Linked DNA regions of Homo sapiens. The protein of the gene in region 1 interacts with the protein of each later gene in a biochemical or structural test. Each region holds a gene or a part of one and is shown on either strand. Other genes may lie near its edges. The genes, in order: CR2 and ANXA6.

What was found.
Region 2: the proteins of CR2 (region 1) and ANXA6 form a complex in vitro, tested with the Homo sapiens proteins (one study listed by BioGRID).

Annotation. Positions count from the first base shown.
Region 1 is NC_000001.11:207,456,331-207,466,602, reverse strand, and holds part of CR2 (complement receptor type 2 isoform 1 precursor), read right to left. Parts: intron 78-10,272; coding exon 1-77. UniProt on the Homo sapiens protein: Serves as a receptor for various ligands including complement component CD3d, HNRNPU OR IFNA1. When C3d is bound to antigens, attaches to C3d on B-cell surface and thereby facilitates the recognition and uptake of antigens by B-cells.
Region 2 is NC_000005.10:151,146,337-151,156,608, reverse strand, and holds part of ANXA6 (annexin A6), read left to right. Parts: intron 1-8,682; 5' UTR 8,683-8,707; coding exon 8,708-8,725; intron 8,726-10,272. UniProt on the Homo sapiens protein: May associate with CD21. May regulate the release of Ca(2+) from intracellular stores.

The DNA.
Region 1 (10,272 bases):
GGTACCAACAGCAATGGGGGTAGAATAATAACTAATCCGGCCATTTAGGATAGGCGGAGGAGAGCCACAAGAAATCCCTGAAAAGTAGAAAAGGAACTTGGTAGGCATACTGATCATGGTGAGAAAATATTCAAATGTAGGTAAAATATCCAAATATAGATCACATAACTTTTTCAGAAACAGACTTAGAAATATGTATAGTTTATTTATTCCCTGCTTACTCCCAAACTCCTAAATTCTTACCTTTTTCTTGATCCTCAGCAAACAGATCAACATAAATCATCTTGACCAAACAATAATAATGAAAAGAATATATCCAAAAGTTCTGAGTCTAATCAATTTTAATAATGAAACAAAAGGCAAATTCAGCACATGAAAATAACATATTAGTGGCATGATAGTTACATGTGGGGAGGTACCATGGATTAGGGAAATTTGAGCTCAGTGGACCTAGTTTCAACTCCCCACGGTCATTCAATAGCTGTGTGACCTCAGGCAAGTCTTACTCTCTTTAAGCTTCAGTTTCTTAGTCTATAGTATAACGCAAACTACTTCATAAGGTATAGTGAGAATCCAGTGCTAAAAGTACATGAACAGAGAAAGTACAATACCTGGAACATACTAATTATTCAATGGCTGCTTCAAACACACAACTGGGGGTACAGGCTGAGATGACCACTTTTGGTCCTGCTGCTGAAGATGCTAGAGCCTCAGTACAGGTGATTTGTCCTGACTTGAGGCTGGAACACTTTGAAAAAGCCACAGGAAGTGAACAGAGGTTTTGAATAATGGCCTCATATTCTTCATTTACTTGTCCTAATAACCATGAAGGATATTGTTTACATTTACTTTGTTATGCACGCCTTTTCTGAGGGAGTCTCAGAATAAAGGGAAAATTGCCAACCTCTAGAACTTTCAGTTAACTTCCCTTTGGCTCCAAGAGGAGGTCTTCAGTGAAAACTGACATAAGAAGATACAGCCAAACTGTTTCATCACATCAGTGCTATACTTGGTTTCAGTAAGGGTAACTTTCGAGAACTGTTGTCTTTATACATATAGAATCTGCAGTATAATATATACTCAACTGAATCAATTTAACATCTTTGGTCTGCATTCCAGAAGACAGAGAAGAGTGGCATATATATGTTCAAAGCACACCTATGGATAAGATGTGATAATTATATATATATATATGTATGAAAAAATCTCTAATCATTGACTTTGGTGCTATCTGCTTTTTTAAAAAAGCATCTTTTAATTTCCCCTACAATAACACAGATCTAGCACTGCCCCAAAATACAAAAGAAGAAAAAGTCCTACATCTGCAACATTTAGATATTACTTTCAAAGTTTACTTTTAAACTCTTTAACTAGGCAGGGTGTGGTGGTTCACGTCTGTAATCCCAGCACTTTGGGAGGCTGAGGCAGGTGGATCACCTGAGGTCAGGAGTTCAAGACCAGCCTGGTCAACATGGTGAAACCCCATCTCTACAAAAATACAAAAATTAGCCAGGCATGATGTTGGATGCCTGTAATCCCAGCTACTCGGGAGGCTGAGACAGGAGAATCGCTTGAACCCAGGAGGTGGAGGTTGCAGTGAGCCAAGATCACGCCATTGCACTCCAGCCTGGGCGACTGAGCGAGACTCCATCTCAAAAAAACAAAAACAGAAACACAAAACAAACAATAACAATAAAAAACTCTTTAACTAGAAAACTCAACCACATATACTATCTTCCTTCTGCTCTTTCCATAGGTACCATATATCTATTTCCCAGAAAAACCTTGTTTTATTTCTAGATCCTGAAGTTTCAGCCCAACTCACCCCTGAAGCACTTTGGCAGTAGAGGATTCTGTTTGCTGTTTAGTTGACACCATATTACATTGCTGCCTTTCAGGGTAAAACCAAGCTTACACTTAAATATCATGTATCATTTTAAAAAAATGAACATAATCCAGATTCCACAACTCCATTTTCAACTTCTATAATTGAGCATTCAAGTAAGAGTAATACACTGAAGAGGAGGGTTGCTCCAGAGCTCCAGACATCAACTTGATTATCTTTGCTGGTGCAATGCATTGACTTCTCATCCAAGAGGTCAAACAGCTTTTCCCTATTACATCCAATATGGCACTGATGATTTCATAGCAAACCCCTCTCCCTGCTGCTGCTGTCAAAGTCCCATGGGGGATGGCTGGGAGTGACTTACAAGGAATACCTTTTTAAGGAGTAGGTGGGGAAAGAGAGAATATTATACTTTCTGAGAATTTTCTCTTCATTCTTGCAATCCAAACTGCAACTCAGCCTACAATTTACCTATTTTGTTGAAATTCTGTATCCTGATCTCAAAGATGATTCTAAATAGGAAGTAGCAAGGTCAAAAGATATATGGAACTGGCTGATAAAAACCGAAAAGCTATGAGCTGGTCACCAGTCCCCGCCCCAGACCACAGATAAATTGTTATAGAAGGGACCTAGGGTGGCTTACTTTTTGCATGGAATAAAGTTGGCAGTGTGTAATCTCCTGGAATGTTTTAGATGTAAGCATTTACTCACTATGAAATAACTTATAATCAAAGGACAGTAAACAAAGGAACGTGTGGTAGGATTGGGGGCCATGAGGAAGATGGGTAAGTCATAGCTGTGTGCCTAGAGCTACTCAAACCAAGTGTAAACCCTCCTGGCTACTCACTTTGGTGTGCAGATGCTCAATTTCCCTCTGGAAGGGGACAAGAGGAATTAAATAGGGTGCAATAAAGAGATTGTTTTACTTACATTCATTAAAAGGCATGTCATTATCCCAGGTTACAATATTGTCTGAGATAATACATGTAGCAGATGAGTCACCAAAGAGTAGATATCTAAAGACAAAGAGATAAGAAATCTCGCGGCACACGTTTACCCTGTAACAAAACTGCACATCCTGCACATGTACCCCAGAACTTAAAATAAAAATAAAAATAAAGAGTGATCATCTCCCAGCTAGACTTACATTTTAGAAAAACTTAGTTCTTTCTCTACTGAAAGAATAGCAGAGAATAGAATATCATTTATGACAAGCAGGGGTGACAGATTAAGGACTCATACAATTTAAAGCCAAATGAAATTCAAGCTCCTGGTCAGTAGCACTGGAGACTTAAAACTGGAAGAGAGCAGCCAAAACTTCCTTCTCTTCTAGGGATCCTCTCTAGCTGGTAATCTTGAAGCAGTGTCTCTGGAGTGGATCAGGGAGGTGATTCCTTTTTGCTTATTTATTTTAAAAAGTATGTGGCAATTACTCAGATCTCTTTTGGAAGAGTGATGGTTTCTGGTTGGAACTGCTGTTCTGGTATCCATGTACCCAGGAACTGTCTCCTGCCAACTCACCCTTTATTACAAGAATATGTCATTGTCAACCCAAATGCAATACCCATGTGTGTAATCACAGAGTCCTAAAGGAGTTCTCTATGACTCACACATGATTTATCTACAAAAGAAAACCAAATCAACCCAAACAGAATTTGAGGCTGGGATTCAGGAGACTTTTTGGAGACTTTTTGTGTTTTATATTAAATCTCAACCTGACTGGACTTGCTGACAGGCCTGCTTATGTTTACTCACAGAAATTCTTACATTTACAAAACTTTCCAACGGATCAGTCAACTCTAGAACACTACTTGTTTAATGCACACAGTCTGCATTTCTGTGCATGGATGCCAACTTTATTTGTGGTCAGTTATAACTTATAGTCTTCATTTTCCATTTTTATACATATTCTGTTAATCTATGATATCATCTACCAAGTCTTCTGCCTTAAAAATCTCACAGTGATCATTTCCTTTTTGTAACTCATCCTCTAACTCATCCTCTACTCTCTTCTCTTCATTCAATTACTTACTGAAGTTTAGTGACTGGACTCCAGAAATCTCTCTCCAAACCAACTATTTTGTCATTGCAGTAGTCTCTCATTGGATCACTGAATGACATAATTTACTTTTCTAATTGTTCTCCCTTGGGCTGGTACACCTTCTATACTACTGCACATTTATCTTTCTAAAACACAAATGTGGTCATGCCACTCTGCACATTTAAAAACTTACTATGACTTACCACTGTTTATAGGGAAAAAATGCATATATTTTTTTACAAGTAAGCTCCAATCCATTTAATCAACTACCATTCCTCACTATGTAGCCTATACTCCAACAACACTGATTTTTTCCAGAGACATCATGTTCTTGCACACTTATGCTTTTGCAAATGCTGTTTCCTCTGCTCAGAGGGCCTATAGTTCTCTAATTCTTCTAGGTAGCATTTATGATTTATTTCTCTATGACCTCATAGCACTTCTTAAATAAGAGAACTACCTCATAGTACAATATATATTTAAGAGTTGGCCTTTACAACTAGTGTAGGAGTTTCTCAAAGGCAAAGACTATCAGATTCATTTTTATGTCACTCCCAGGCCCCACTGTCTGGTCTAGAGCTTAGTATCTAGTAGTTACTTAAAAGTATTTTTTGAATTGAATGGGATGAGGATGAGGTAATATTAACATCTCTTGTCTCTAACTTCTAACCTCACCCTAACACAGTATGGATACCATAGATCAAAGTCATAAAGATCACAGGATGAATAGGTTTGGCCAGCTATCATGACTTAACCCTCATACCCAGTGCCCCTAGGAGTAAAAGGAAGCATGGAGCACTCAGGAGCCCTCTTCACTTGAGATGACATGTGAATTTACTGGTCTTTTATCTTAAACATAACATGTTATCTCATCCAGATACAGCGACAGACCCAAATATGCCTCTATTACAGGATTACTCACCTTTACAGAACTGCTGAGCATCTGACCACTTGAAGATCTCTAGGGAGGTGACAAAGAATGCCTCTTGATATACCCAAGAAAGCATTTGTATTTGCAAGATATCTCAACAGCAAACTTAAGATTGGTTACTCTGAATTTTAGGCTTAGCAAAAGGAAACCTTGGCAGAAACTTACCCTGACCTGAGGACCTGAGACAAAGGCTACAGAAACATAAAAACCAAGAGAGGCTAAAACCTCTTCTCTGCTTCTGCCTTGTTACCAATTATCCTGAAAACTTTGATCTTTAGAATGAAAGTCTAAAATAGGGCAATATTTTATGGAATGAAGAATGCATATCATTGCAGTAAGGGTGAATATACACAGAAATAAGCTCAGAGGTTCAGAGAATTTTTAGGGTAGACTTCAGAGATGGAGAAAGTAATTTTTCATAAAATTTCAGAAAATCCTCAGAATTGTTCCATCTCCTTCACCCTTACAAGTAAAAATTAGTGGTTTTAGTTTGTTTGCTTGTTTTTTCACAGTGAGGTCAGAGTCTGGGGAAAACAGGAAAGGCATGTGGCAAGGGCCTTGAAGGATGATTACATATGTTTTGATTTTTTTTTATAAGGGTGGTAGGGGGAGCGGATATTAATATTTTTCCCAGCTTCAATGAGGTCTTATTTATACACAAAAAAACTGCACATAACTAATGTACGCTATTTGTGAATTTGTGGGACAAAAAGGTAAAAATCTTTAAATACAAACTTTCCCAGGATAGCATAAGAAACTAAAGTATATAAGAGATCTTGTAAAAGCTCAGTACACATATGATCCTGAAAATTACTTTAATGAATTTACATAACTATCTTAGCTATTAAACCGTTAATGCCTAGAGAGGAGAAAATATGTTGATTATTCTTCATTATTTTATTCTGTTAATCTAGTAGAGTAATATGCCACCAAAGAGAACTCAGTAAATACTTTCTGATGGGAACTAGATAAAGGGACAGTCATTTCAACACAGATTCCTGTGACTTAAAGTAACAATATTATTATTAATAATGGAACAGAAGTTATTCTAGGAGATAGGTAAGAAACTATAGCAATGATACACTTAGGGATATAGCTGGAAAAGTCATTTTTCTATGTATGAGAACGAGCTCAAGTTTCAACGCCCTAAACTGACAAGCAGAAAACAAGAAGTTAACTCTTCTTCCAGATCAGATGGTAGTCCAGGCAAAAAAAGAAAGTACTCAGTTGTAAGGCCCTCCTAGAATAGCAGTGTATTTAAATATCAAATTTATAATCTCCTTTTTCAAACAGGTCTGAGACAGGTACGGGTGAAAGTCAAAGTATAAACATGGATGAACTGACACAAGGTCACACACAAAGCTCCCAAAACACAGCCAGACCTTAGCTGTGACCCCAAACTACTACTGGAGAAGTCACAAAGACTGGTTCTAAGAATAGGCATCATTATTGGGAGCCAGATATCACTATAGGTCCCCTTCTATTTATTTCCTCAGTTTCTTTAGTTTTCTCCATTAACAACTACAAAAGTCTCCAAGTGCTTACTCTGTGCAAAATAGCAAGATTCTATAAGGAATATCAGGGTTTGACCTCAATGAAGACAAACTTCATGATCCTGATACTACTTGTACTAGTGACTCTAGTCAAGTGACTTAATCTGTAATTATCAAATGTAAATAAGGACAATATCAAATTATCCTCCACAAGCTGGAAAACCAATTTAAATTTACACGATTTAATCAGTGGCAATGACATGGACGAAGATGGAATGAAGATCCAGAAATAGCAAAAGCAGAAGGGTGCTTCACAGCATAACTTTCCATGATGAAAGGAGATACGGATCACACTTTCTGGATGATAAAAAATGGGAGGGTCTCATTTCCAATAAGGAGACTTAAGGGCTATCTTCCTTTGGGAACATCAATCCTCATTAGTAACGAAAGCCAGAATCCCAAGTCACAAGGCAGATCATATCAGAAAAGGGAAGGTTAAGCCATGGGCCATCAAGTAATACAAATTTTCTTGAGGGTCACTGGACCCTCTTCACATCTTTCTGTAGCCAGGAGTAAAACTCAGAGGAGATCATGACTGGATTGAAGATCAAAGATGGTGACTTGACATTCAGACACATATCCTTCCAACCATGTTTAAAACTAACAGGCGAAGCAGTTTCTGAGTTAAATGAACAGAGATATATTTAATTACTTGGGCCCAGGGACTTTACCTGGAATGGCTTGGAAATCCATTTGAAATGGATGAAAAACAAACATATAGGATAATAAAAATAAAACTGAAATTTTAGTCAGAAAGCAGGTAGGAGGGAAAATCATTATTGAGACTGATAATTCATATAATCAAATACCTTAATACTGGGTTTCCTGCCTATTTGATAAGCAAGTTTTGAATGATGATGTGAAAGTTGTCAGAATCAAAATAGAGTCACTAATGTAATAAAAAAAAAAACAACAAAAAACACCTTCAGAAAGCCAGGGAAGGCCATGAAAATAGGGTTCTCATGCTTGTATACCTGTTAACCCAAACTATCATAAAAGACTGAAAAACCACAACCGTGCACAAAAGCCACTGCAACCCTACAAGAACATCCTTCCGGCATCTGCCTGTATAACCTCAAACTGGCATCATCCTTGTTATTGGTCTTTGTAGCCAAGGATAATTATTCTAAAACAATTATGTAATCCTCATATTTTTCCTTTAAAAACCTTTGTCTTCTTTTACTTCCTTGAATATACACACAATTCATAATCACACACATATTCCCATTGCAATGTTCTATTCCCAAACAAATATCTTTTTTTTTTAGGGTCTTTCCCTGTTTGTTATTTAGTTTAACAACAGTTATGCATATTAACCAAAGTTCAGTCCTAAGCACAGGAGATGTATCTGTGAACATCAGAGACAAGGTTCCCACCCTCATAGAATTTATAATCCAACAGAAAGAGACAGACTGTAAATAGATACCAGGAAATAAATAAGAAGGTGCTGAACATGAAATATGAAATAGAGTGATATGTCACAATGTAATGCACTGGAAGGAGAAGGGACAGGGTGGCATGCAACTTCAGTTATGATGGTTAAGGAAGGCCTGTGAAAAGGCAACATTTAAGTTGTGACTGAAGGACAAGAAGGAAGAAGGAAGCAGCCAGGCAAATTGCTGGGTACAAGTATTTTAGGCAGAGGCCTAACAGGAGGAATGGATTTGGTATGCTCCAGGGACAGACAGAAGGCAAGTGTGGCTGGGATGCAATGAGCAAAGCAGAATGGTCCACGATCAAGTCAGAAAACTCAGCAGGAGGGATCATGAAGGGCTTTTTAGACCACAGATATGTGAATATTATCCTGAATAGAAGTCATTGGAGAGTTCAAGCAGGAGAATCACAAGGCCTGACTTACATTTTTAAAGGAATATTCTGGCAATTGGGTAGAGAGTGGATCGAACTGCTTACTTTTAGAAGCAAAGAGTACAGTTTAGGGCCAAAAAAAAAAAAATGAAGCTTGGCAAAGGATTGAGCAGTGGATATATTTTAGAAATAGAATTGGCAAGATTTTTTGTTGTTTTACATGTGGGGCTGAGGAAATGGGAGGATTCCTGACTTCTAGACTTCTGACTTGGGCTACACAATTGATAGAATTACCCTGTTCTGAGGATGGAAAGCCTGAAAAAGGAGTGTGTGTGTGTGTGTGTGTGTGTGTGTGTGTGTGTGTGTTGTGGCCTTGAGGTAGGGAATTGTGTTCAGAATCATTTCCATTCAGACTTGGTATATCTAACACACTAGGCATCCACATCAAGATGCCAAGTAGGCAGTTTGCAGCTCAGGAGAGAGGACAGAACTATAGATAATAAATATGAGTCATCAACATATAAATAGTATTCAAAGCCATGAGACAAGATGAGTTGAGGTTTTTTAGGAAGAAGAAATGAAGAAAGAAGAGGCTCAGGGCTGAGCCCCAAGACCCTCTAATATTTAGAGATAGAACAAAAAAGACTAAGAGACAACAGGGAAGTATGGAAAAAACAGGTAAGAGTGTCTTGGTTTGGAAGATGAGAATGATAATGGTTTCAAGGTAAAGGAAGTCATCAGTTTTTGCTGAAAGACTGAGAAAGATTAACATAGAAAAATGACCATTGGATTTATCAGCATAAGGGTCAGTAGCGACATTGCAAGAAACAGCTTCAGGAGACTGTGGGGAAGAAGCCTGTCTGAAGTGGAGAAGGAGATAACGAAATTTGAGTAAGTAGTCAATGAAAAGTTTTGCTGAGAAGAACAAGAAGAGGGACAGGAAAATGGAGTTCCAGTGGGTCATGAGAAGGTCCATAAAGGATTTCCTGGGGTATACTTAAATGCTGGTGGGGATGATCATACAGAAAGAGGTACATTGATGATGCAAGGTAGGAGATATCTGCAGAAGTAAAGTCCTTGCAAAGGCAAGAGGGTATGGAACATGATCATGAATACAGGAAAAGGAGCTGAATTTGTCAGCAGAATGGATACTTCTTTCATTGTTATAGGAGGAAACATACCAAGATTTCAATTCATATTTATTGAATTCCAAATTACAGGCTATTGATAGGAACTCAAATCAGGAAATAAGGCAGATTAAGGTCTTGCACTCATGGAACTTGTATTCCAGTGAGGGAACAAACAACAAACAGGTACATAAATAAGGAAGAAGGTTTTAGATGGTGATAGGTGGTCTGTAGAAAATAGAACACAGTTTTGTATTGGAGAGTACCCTGGAATATGGATACTTCAGACAAGAGTCAGAGAAGCACAACAGAGGGCTGAGCCTTGAATGTCAAGGAGACAGGCAAAGAATAATTTGTAGGAAGAGCATTTCAAAAGAGAGAATACCTAGTGCAATTGTGCTCAAAGAATAAAGAGAAGGCCAGTGTGGCTGGGGCAGAGAGAGTGAGTGGGGTACAGAGAATTTCAGGGAGAGGCAGAAGGCCTCAGACTGGAGAATAAGGGGTATGGGTTTTATTCTAATGTGACGGGAAGGCCTCAGCAGGTTTTCTGCAGTGGAGAACAAAATCTGATTCTAGATGGAGGTAAGTTTGTAAGTTGGTAGGTTTGTAGCCGATTAGAAAATGGGAGCATTCTTGTTTCATGGTTTTGTTTTCTCAGCATAGGATAAAGTTAGGTGGCCACTGAAGGCTTGAGTAAAATCTAGAAGTGTAGGAAATTTGAAACTGTTTATGCAAATAGACAAAAGGAAAAATAGGAAAACACTAAAAAGGAAATTTGCTTCCATTGACTTTGCTTATAGCAGTGTGCCCTATAGATACTTGTTGCAGAATCTTCTAGAGTGATTGTTAAACCTCAGCTTTCCTGTGCTAACTCCAAACCTATGAACCTCTGGAGGGGGAGGTGGAACCAGGAACCTACATTTTATAAAGGTACTTTAGTATTTTATTAAGCACACTCAAGTGCAGGA
Region 2 (10,272 bases), on another chromosome or scaffold:
GGTTTGTGAAAGGACTCTGGTTTCCCCCCAAGAGTCCGCCCTTTTCCCTCCATTATTCCTTCCCCCTTGCCCAAAACATGCTTGGGATTGCTTCCACTGACCCAGATGGCATATCCTGACCTGCGTAGCCCTTCATGGTGAAGTGAATGACCGCCCCAGTTTCAGCCCCTGTGGACCCTGACCTCCTAGCAGGCAGGCCCTGAGCCACGCCGAGGGCACTGGCCTGGGGTCAGAGGAAAGCCCGGTTACAGTCCGGATGTGCTGGGACTTCTTGAGCAAGCCCTTTCTCTAAGGCTTTGTGCCCCATCTGGAGCAAAGTCTGCTGAACTGGCTGCCACTGCCAGTGCAGACATTCTAGGATTCAACTGTTCTAAGATTTAGGATTCTGGGAGTTGGATGGGACTGGGGAGGGCAGGAGGCAGAGGCTTTCATCCCCCTCTGCAGCTGTGACAATCACTCATCCATCTTTCTTTGCCTTATCTACCCTTTGTTCCTAAGGCAGCATCTGCTGAGATACAGAAAATACTTGCAGTTTCTGGATAAGGGCCACAGCTGTTGCTGGGGCAAAATGTAGATGTGAGTGTGCAGAGGAGGGGCCAGGGAAGCCCAAGGCCTGGCCTCTTGAGACTGACTCCTGGGATGAAGTGGGGGAGACTGCAGTGCTGGATAGCTGCCAGTGACTGGCACATCCGCACTGCAGCATCCAGAGGGAGCCCTGGGCCACCAGGATCCAGCCTCGGACCCAGCCCCTGCCCTGCCACTAATCAGCTAGGCGCCCTGGGCACACCTACTACCCCTCTGGGGCTTAGCCCCTTCCTCTCTACAGGGATAGGACATATACCCAGGACACCCCACTGGTATTAATAAAATGGGTTGGGTCTGAATGGCTTTTGCTCTACCATTCTAGGATTTTCTGGGGAGGCCCAGTGGAATCACCAGCCTCACCCCACCCAGCCTCTCCGATATACTTCCTGGGTGGCGACAAAGCACAGGATGTGGTCTCTACCGTGATTCCTGAGCATGCATGCACCCCTTCTCCTGCCAATAGAGGGGAGGAAGTCGGAGGGGTGTCTTTATGCCTATAAACTTGCCTTGGAATCCAGCCTCACTCCCTTTCCTCCTGGAGTTGAGAAGCCCCCACAGAGACTGGCTATGGGGGAGTGACTGTCTATAGGTTCCTTGGATGTCCTGCCTATCTGCAAAATGAGAATGAGATCGATACCTTCATGAGGCTGTAAGATGGCAGATATAAAAGTGCTGTGTTATCTCAAAAGGGTGTGGTGCTTGAGAAGGCAGGCGACCTGAGCCTCAAGTTCCTCTTCTGAAAAATCCATGTCCTGGTGGTCCTTAAATAATAGCAATAAAATGGTAACCACTATTACCTCTCGAACCCTTAAATTTGCCAGGCCCCGGCTGAAGCCTTGCTATGTTAGACGCTGTTATTAATGCCTATTTTGCAGACATGGAAACTCCAGCCCTTAACAGTTTAAGGAAGAAATAATAATGACAAATGCTTATAAAATATAGTGCTTCCTGTGTGCCAGGTCCTCTTCTAAGCTCTAGACTTGTCTTAATTTTTTTTATCCTCATCATAACTCCTATGAGGGAGGTGCTATTTTTATCCCTTTTTTTTTTTTTTAATATGAAACAGGCACAGAGAGGCTCAATACTTGCACAACACCACACAGCTACTAAATATCACCCTCAGGCTTCAATCTCAGGCAGTCTGGCTCCAGCATCTATACTGTGAGACACTACTTTGCTGCCTCTCACAAAAGTGACCCAAGCTGGGGTTCAAACCTAGGCTAGACTAGTTCCAATCCTGAGGCAGAGAGATGATCTCCTGAGGCCTTGTCCAGTCCTAGGATCAATGGTTCTGGGTCAGGAGAGGAAAAGACACTGCTCCCTAAGAAACCCCAGTCGTCAAGCTGGGGGGTGTGCCCACGCACAGAGCCAGGGAAGGCATTTACCCCAGCTTCATCAGAATCAAGGCTCCTGGAGGGTTATGGAGCGGGTCCTGGGTGTCTTCCTGCAGACCGGGGGAGAAGCCAGCAAGAAAGGGCAAAGAGGGAAGGATCTAGATTTTATAGGCCAGGGGCCTTCTAAGTGGGATGGATATACCCCAGGACGCACTGAAGATGATCTTTTGGGGGTACAGGAAGAAACTATTGGACTCCTTATTAAATGTACTTTTAATGTCATATTTTAAAGGTATATTTCTGTTTATCATGGTAAATACTCAATTTTTCTTTGGTTATGGGTTGTGTATGGGATCAATATATATATATATATATATATATATATATATATATACTGCAAACTGCCATATGACATCACCTTATCACCAGCTTTGTGGGGCCAGGAGCCTTGTCTGTCTCATTTTCTGTTCAACCCCCAACTTCTACCAGTGGGCCTGGTTTGTAGGAGGTGCTCAAATAAATGTTTATGGAAAAACACGCCCCTGCTTGATGACTGATTTTCTTCTGATGTTGGGTAAGTGACTTAACCTCTCTAGTTTATCTCCTGGCTATAGAAAGAGGAGTAAAGCACAGTTTGAAAACCAATAGTAGATGGTTCCATTTGCTGAGGTCACTAAAGAAAGCATGAAAGCCACTTAGTGCATTTTACCCCCAACCATCCATAGGAGCCACGCCCTATGGGAGGGGGTGCAGGAAAGAGGCATATGCAGTAATTTTCTAAAAAGTGTAAAATTATGACTCATGCAGATACAAAAATGATCATGTGCTGTTCTACTTATTAATCAATGACCACACCAGGCCGATGTTATAACCAGCTCAAAAGACACATTTGTATTGAAAGAAATGTGCAATTAGAGACAAAACTCTTTTTTTACCTGAGGGGGTGGGAAATCAATTGGACCTTTACAAAATAGGGCAAGGAGTATGTATTAGAATTACTTTGTGTTACCATCAATTATTTGCAACTTACTGACCTGTAAAATCACTCAAAGACAATGAAAGTCTCGAGTCAGACAACCTGGAGGGTTTTCCTTTGAAGTACAGATTCTTTCCCATAATACCTTGGAGGCTGGCAGCCCTTATCTAATGGAGAAATGATAAATCCACAGTGGTTGACCAAAGCCAGTCAAATCAAGGTGGTTTCAGAGCACCCTAGCGGGGGAATACCTTCTGGCTTGTTAGAAAAGGCGGCATTTGAATCCAGCAGATAACAGTGGTTCTCAGCCTCCTTGGCTGCCATTAAAATCACCTAGGAAAGTTTTTAGAAATTACCAAAGGCCAGGCCTCACCCCAGCAGTTGAGTCAGAATCTCTAAGGGCTGACCTTAAATCTTTGGTAGTTTTGAAAAATTCCCCAGGTTCTGTTAGTGAAGCTAGAATTGAAAAGCACTGGTATAGATTCTGGAAAGCTGGATTAAAAATGTTGGTGGAAGGCGTTCCTGGTTTAGCAGGGAAGACAGGGCAAAGAGGAAAGTGGTGATGGCAAAGAAGTCAGTAAGGAGAACCAATGGCCTCGACTGCTGAGCTTAGAGGCCCAGTATTAAGGGGCACCATTGGAGACTTGTGAGCAGAGGAGTGCTGTGGCTCAGGCTGTAGCCCCTCAGGCACTCCCCTGAGGCAGAGGTCTGGGTGGGTTTTTTTGCATGATTTTCCATATTATTTCTTTTTTCTCAAATCACCCTCCCACCACACCTGGTTTCACCCCCTTACGCTCAACATCTCCTTTCCCTCAAAAGTGTACTCTGTTCCTCCACAGCCCAAGCTACCTTTCGATGACAGAAATGCTTTTTCTTACCCTGGTGTTACTATTCTTCCTGGCATGCCCCTGCCTCCATTCCATTGAATCCAGATTTTGACTGTGCACCTCTATCAGCCTGCACCCCTAATATTTTCTTTAACTTTATACATGTATAACAAATAAAAATGGGACATAAAAGGGCAAGATTAAAACATTTGGAAAGTGGTGATACTCTTGTCCTGCACCCCAGTGGATTGTCATACCCATTACCCCTTTTTGGAGACTACTGCTGTAATAATGATGATTGTGGCAACAGAAGTCACCGTTTGTTAAACATTTAATCTGTACCTGGCCATGCTAAGTGTTTTACCTGCCTTATTTCATTGAATCTTCACAAAAACCTTACAAGAGGGTCATTTCAGGATGAAGAAACTGAGGCAGAGAAATTCCATAACTTGCCCAAGTTACTGAGCTCGGAATTTGCATGGTCAGGATTTGAACTTGGGCATCGACCACAAATCCTGCATTGATTCTAATGCCACATTGCCTCCATTGTAAATGTTTGGGCTTATTATAATAAAAGCCACCATTTATTGAGCCTTTACTGTGTGCCACGCACTGTGCTAAGTGTTTTCCCCCCGTTACTTCATTTATTTCTCAGTACCTATAGGTATTTCTATCTGCATTTTGCGGATGTGGAAATTGAGATTCAGTTTAAGTAACTTACTTACATCACAAACTGCTGGGCAACATCTGTGCCTGAAGGCCCATGCCTTCACATGACTTGGATAAAACCCTTCCCCTATCCACATCTCTGTGGTTGGGCAGTGGTGAGCCGTTCCTTCTAGAGTCAGCCTGGAACTCTCGAAGGGGAAGGAGGAAAACGTGATTGATTGCAGGCAAAAGGATGAGGCAAGGGGTGGCCACAGCAGCACAAAGCCACCCAGGCCATTCATTCTGCTCCTGTGTGGGTTTCACGAATGATCAGTCATGATAAGTCGTCACAGTATATCTCATCTAGATCTGAGAGAATCAGGGTTCCTGGGAGGAAAGAGGCACAGGTCTGGAATGACCCTGTTTACTAGTCTTGAACAGCTCTTTCAACCAAGGTGATGAATGTTGCATATTGGCGGGTGGAGATGGGGAGGAATCCTGTGGCCTGGGAGATGACCCTCCTAGGACTGATATTCTGCTGTGAAAATCCTGAGTTGAAGTCTCTAAAAGCCTCTAACTATAGATCCTACCAAAGAGGGAGTGATGTATTGTCCCACTTTAGAGATGAAGAAACTAAGGCTGAGAGAGGGATCTGGCTTGCCTGAGGTTACATGGGGGCAGACTGGGAACCAGAACCAGGGTCTTATTCTTTGGACTCTTCCTGGTGTCCCATTGCAGCCAAGACCCACAGTTGTGTGGGGACTTGTTATGATCGAGGGCTGCTAGGCAGAGATGTTGGCTGCTTCCTGGGCCCTGGCAAGTCACTTTCTCTTTCTGAGATGCCTTTACCCCGTCTAGAAAATGAGGGACTTGGAGTCATGGATTATTAAGGGCCCTTGTGGGATTCAGAAACACTAGATGTAAAATATTCAGCCAATTTGAGCAGTATGGTCTAGGTTGCTCTGGGAGGGATCAGAAGCCATCTTAAAGCCAGGGTAAATGGTGTGTTTATGATTAGCTCAGGAGCTTCCCAGAACCCTCAGAGGCGGGGCTGTGGAATCAGCAGGGGGACTGGCCCTCAGAACTGCAGTCTGAACATCTAGTTCTGGAAGGAGCTTGCTTTTTACATATGAACTGTGCACTCACACAAGGCACACAGAAACTGCTCTCAGAGCTGAGAATATTTTCCCAAACAGTAAGAGGCCCCTCCTTGAAGCCATCTCTCCTTGGAAAGGGGAGCTCCTCCAGATGGGCCTGGGCTGCAGCCAGCAGCTGAAATTGCCAGCAACAAGCCCAGAGGAAAGTGCTTCAAGGCTGGAGATGCAGGTGACAGGCCTCAGCCCTCCCTCTGTCTGTGTCAACTAACTTCCTGGGTCTCATTCAGTCCCTGGTTCTCTGCTAGCCTTGGGCTTCCTTCACTGTCTCCCCCTACTATCCCCCAGGTCAGAGGAAACCGAGAGCTGGCCTCCAGCCTCATCCCGGGGTAGATGTGGGCCCCCTCCTCCCCCCACCACACACTGGAAAGGGGGTACAGTTTCCATTTCCTGGTGAGAGCTGCACAGTTGTACCAAGGGGCCCCTGGTTGCCAGGGAAACAGCAAGGTTTCCTGAAGCTGAGCTGAGCTGAGCTGCATTTGCAGGCAGATCCGTCCTCTGCCTTCCACTCCCAACCCCATATGATGACTGTCCTCAGCTGACTGCAGCTTGGGGAACTCATAATCAGCCAGTGAAGACACAGAGGCAAACACGACAGAGGCCCTGTCCTCAACTTCCCACCAGCACAGTAAATATCACCATTTACTAAGAACAGGTCTTGTGCCTGGCCTCTTATGTGCTGCCTTTGACATAACTTAGGTCTTATCCTCCAACAACCCTACAAAGCAGAAAAGGGAAAGCTTCAGTTTTGTGCTTGAGATCACCTTGAACTCAAAAATGAGCAATAAGCCCACGGTCACATGGCTAAGATTTTCCCTAAGTCTTGGGGGAACAGGGAATATGTGGAGAACTGGAAGGCATTGAGCTGAAATGTCTCCATGATTTCTACTCTCCTAGTTCTGTTCCTTTTAGGTCTTACTGGGTAAATCTGATTGACTTTGTTATGTTTACTTTTTTTTTTTTTTTTGAGTCAGAGTCTCACTCTGTTGCCTAGCCTGGAGTGCAGTGGTGCCATCTCTGCTCACTGCAACCTCTGCCTCCCAGCTCAAGCGATTCACCTGCCTCGGCCTCCTGACTAGCTGGGACTACAGGCACACACCATCACACCTGGCTAATTTTTGTATTTTTTCGTAGAGACGGGGTTTCGCATGTTGGCCAGGCTGGTCTCAAACTTCTGGCCCCAGGTGGTCCTTGCCGCTTGGCCTCCCAAAGTGCTGGGATTACAGGCATGAGCCACTGCTCCTGGCCTCTGTTATGTTCACTTTTAAAAAGCAATACATAGACATTGTTAAAAGAGATCAGGCCAGGCTTGGTGGCTCACGCCTATAATCCCAGCACTTTGAGAGACTGAGGAGGGCAGATCACAAGGGCAGGAGTTCGAGACCAGCCTGGCCAACATGGTGAAACCCATCTCTACTAAAAATACGAAAATTAGCCAGGTGTGGTGCCGTGCACCTGTAATCCCAGCTACTCAGGAGGCTGAGGCAGGAGAATCGCTTGAACCCGGGAGGTGGAGGTTGCAGGGAGCTGAGATTGCGCCACTGCACTCCAGCCTGGGTAACAGAGCGAGACTCCATCTCAAAAAAAAGAGATCAAATTGCCCAGACCTGCTTAAAGTGGAAAGTAGTGGTCCTTTGTTTCTCTTCTCCTTCTCTTAAGAAGATTGTTAAACTTTCATCTGTTGCCCTCCTGAGTGCTCATTAGCCAGCTCCCTACCTGCTTCTCTTATACTTCCCAAATCAGTTACATCTCTTTTTGCATTTATTTTTACGTATCATATCTTTGTTCCTTCACTGTAGACCCTGTCTCCTGATATCCTCCACCCGCATTCCTTATCCATTTTCAATGAGATATGTGTCCTGTTTTCCTGTGTGTTCCTGTCTTTTTTTTTTTTTTTTTTTTTTTGAGACAGGGCTTGCCCTGTCACCCAGGCTGGAGTGCAGTGGTGCAACCTTGGCTCACTGCAGCCTCCACCTCCTGAGTTCAAGCAATCCTCTCGCCTCAGCCTCCCAAGTAGCTGGGACTATAGGCATGTGCCACCATGTCCAGCTATTTTTTTTTTATTTTTTTTTAATAGAGATCGGGTCTCACTATGTTACCTAGGCTGGTCTCGAACTCCTGGGCTCAAATTATCCTCCCACCTCAGCTTCCCAAAGTGCCAGAATTATAGGCATGAGCTACCACGACCAGCCTGAAAAATCCAGTCTTTACAGTGGCCTCAGGCACCGGTCTCAGATCCTACATCCTACCACACCACTCCCTGCTACCACACCAGCCACACTGAGCTCGTGGTGGTTCCTCACTTGCACCACCCCGCGGTGTGCCCCAGTCACACTCGTGAGATCCTCTGACCCCTCCACCTGGGACTACACCCCTTGTCACTTTCCTGACCAAGCCTTGTCTTTTCTCTGTAGTTCTTATCTCAGCCTGATGAGTGCATTTGTTATTCATTCCCATTACAGCATAAGCTCTAGAGAAACAGAATTTAAAAAATTGCTCATATTTCTGCATGCACAGTGCCCAGAGCAATGCCTGACTAGGATAGGCGCTAAATGAGTGCATACTCACTTGTTCAGGAATGACAGTCCTTCAGATATTGCAGCAGGTGGTTGGAAGCACTTTGAGTCCTATCTGCAGGCGGTCAAGCTCTGGGTTCTGAAGCCATCCTTGTTGACTTGAAAAGGGGGCATGCATGGTGCAGATAGTATAGACTCTGGGATCTAGAAATTGTTGAATTCAGTTCTAAGCTGTGTGATCTTGGCTCATTTATTGCGATGCTCCAGCCTCAGTTTCCTCTCTATAAAAAAGGAGAATCTGATGTGTGGAAGGATTTCTGAGAGTAGTAACTGAGACGGTGCTGAGACAGGTACCCTGCCTAGTGTGGAGGAGTCAAGGGGTCAGTGGTGGGTCAGTGCCATGCCCGCCCTCCCTTGGGGATCCGCGTCCCTTTCCCATACTGCTGTGAATGTCTGGACACCATCTAGTCTGTCCATTGTCTTCTGAAAAAAATGTGATTGGCCTTGAGCTGGGTCATTGGGTCTGATTTAACCTGAAGGGCTGGGGGCAGCTGGAAAACAGCAGAGGGAGGAAATGTAAGGGAAAGAAAGGGGATGGTTAGAGTTGGGGGGAATCTCACATGCTGTCTTTCTTCTCTACAGTGGATTCTGCTGCGAACCGGAGACCATGGCCAAACCAGCACAGGTAAGGGGCCTCTCTTTCCTGAAGGTGGTACTCAGCCTTCTCTGGGCCTGGGATCCTCCTGGAGCCACTAGGCCTGCTACAGAGACCCCTGGTACCTTCAGCTTGAAAAAAGGAGGAAAGGTTCTTAGGCTTTGCTTGCTCCTGTTACAAGTCATGGCTCTTCAGATGCAGGTCACCATAATGTAATATAACCCACAATATCCTAAGCAGAAAAGGATGTGTATTGGCTTATCTGACAGAGAGGCCCAGGGCTTCAGGTCTGGTTGAATCCAGGGGTTTCCAAATGATAGTGTCAAGATTCTGCCTGTGTGAGCTGGGCTTCTTCCGGTGGCTTCATTCTTGGGTAGGTTCTTCCTTGCATTGGCATGGTAGTCATCAGCAGCTCCAGGCTTCCATTCTGCTGTCTTGGCAGCCCAGGGAGAAAACAACATAACTCATGCCCAGTGATTCCAGGGGAAGGCCCAGGTCTGGTTCTCATTGGCTGTGCCTGAGTAACCTGTTCTTTCTTGGAGCAAGGAGGTGGAGTTGGTCCCACCTGAACTGTTTGGCCTGACGAAGGGAAATGGATACTTGACAGGTAGAAAGACATCCTTGTTGACTTCTCTGCTCTGGATATAGAAATGTTCTCTGTCACACCCATTTGGGATTGAATTTCCTTGGCTTGGGAGACTCTAACCTCAGTCTCTCATGTCTGACTGTTCTGCCGGGCAATAGAATTGGAGGCACCTGAGAACTTTTACTCCCATGTGGCTGAGACTAGGTTCTGGCCATGGTCAGAGGTAGGATTCTGACCTCGACTGTGCTCTGTTGAGGCTGGGCACGGTGACTCTCACCTATAATCCCAGCACTTTGGGAGGCTGAAGTGAGCAGATCACTTGAGCGCAGGATTTCGACACCAGCCTGGACAATATGGCAGAACCCTGTCTCTAGAAAAAATACAAAGGTGGCATGTACTTGTAGTCCCAGCTGCTTAGGAGGCTAAGGTGGGAAACTCACCTGATCCCAGGAGATTGAGGCTGTGATGAGCTGAGATCATGCCACTGCACTCCAGCCTGGGCTACAGAGCAAGTCTCAAAAAACAAAAAACCCCACTCTACTCTGTTGGGGTTTGCCTGAGGGTGCTGTCTGTTGGCTGGCGTTGGAGAAAGCCATGCAGTCAGTGTGACGATGGGATTGGCAGGGAGAAGAAACTTGGGGATCTTGAAGAAAATCATGGGACTGGGCCCCGTTGTCCCTTACTCCAACCCAGAACTACTGGCCACAGAATGCACAGACAGAAGCTGTCTGTGAGGTCTTTGGGCCTCATGTTCCCCTTACGGAATGGTTGAATTCAGTAATAATAAAACTCCATCCATCCTTGACATCATGACTGCCCCCAGTGAACCTGGGCTTATAGGATATTCACAGTTTCTGAAGAGCACAGGATGTTATAGGATCAGTACCCTCAGAGAAGTCCTAGCTGTGGCCTTCCTCACAGCCACTGAGGAGTATACTGTGTGTACAAGTGGCCTCTCTGACCAGGAGGAGAAAATGTTACTGATTATGGG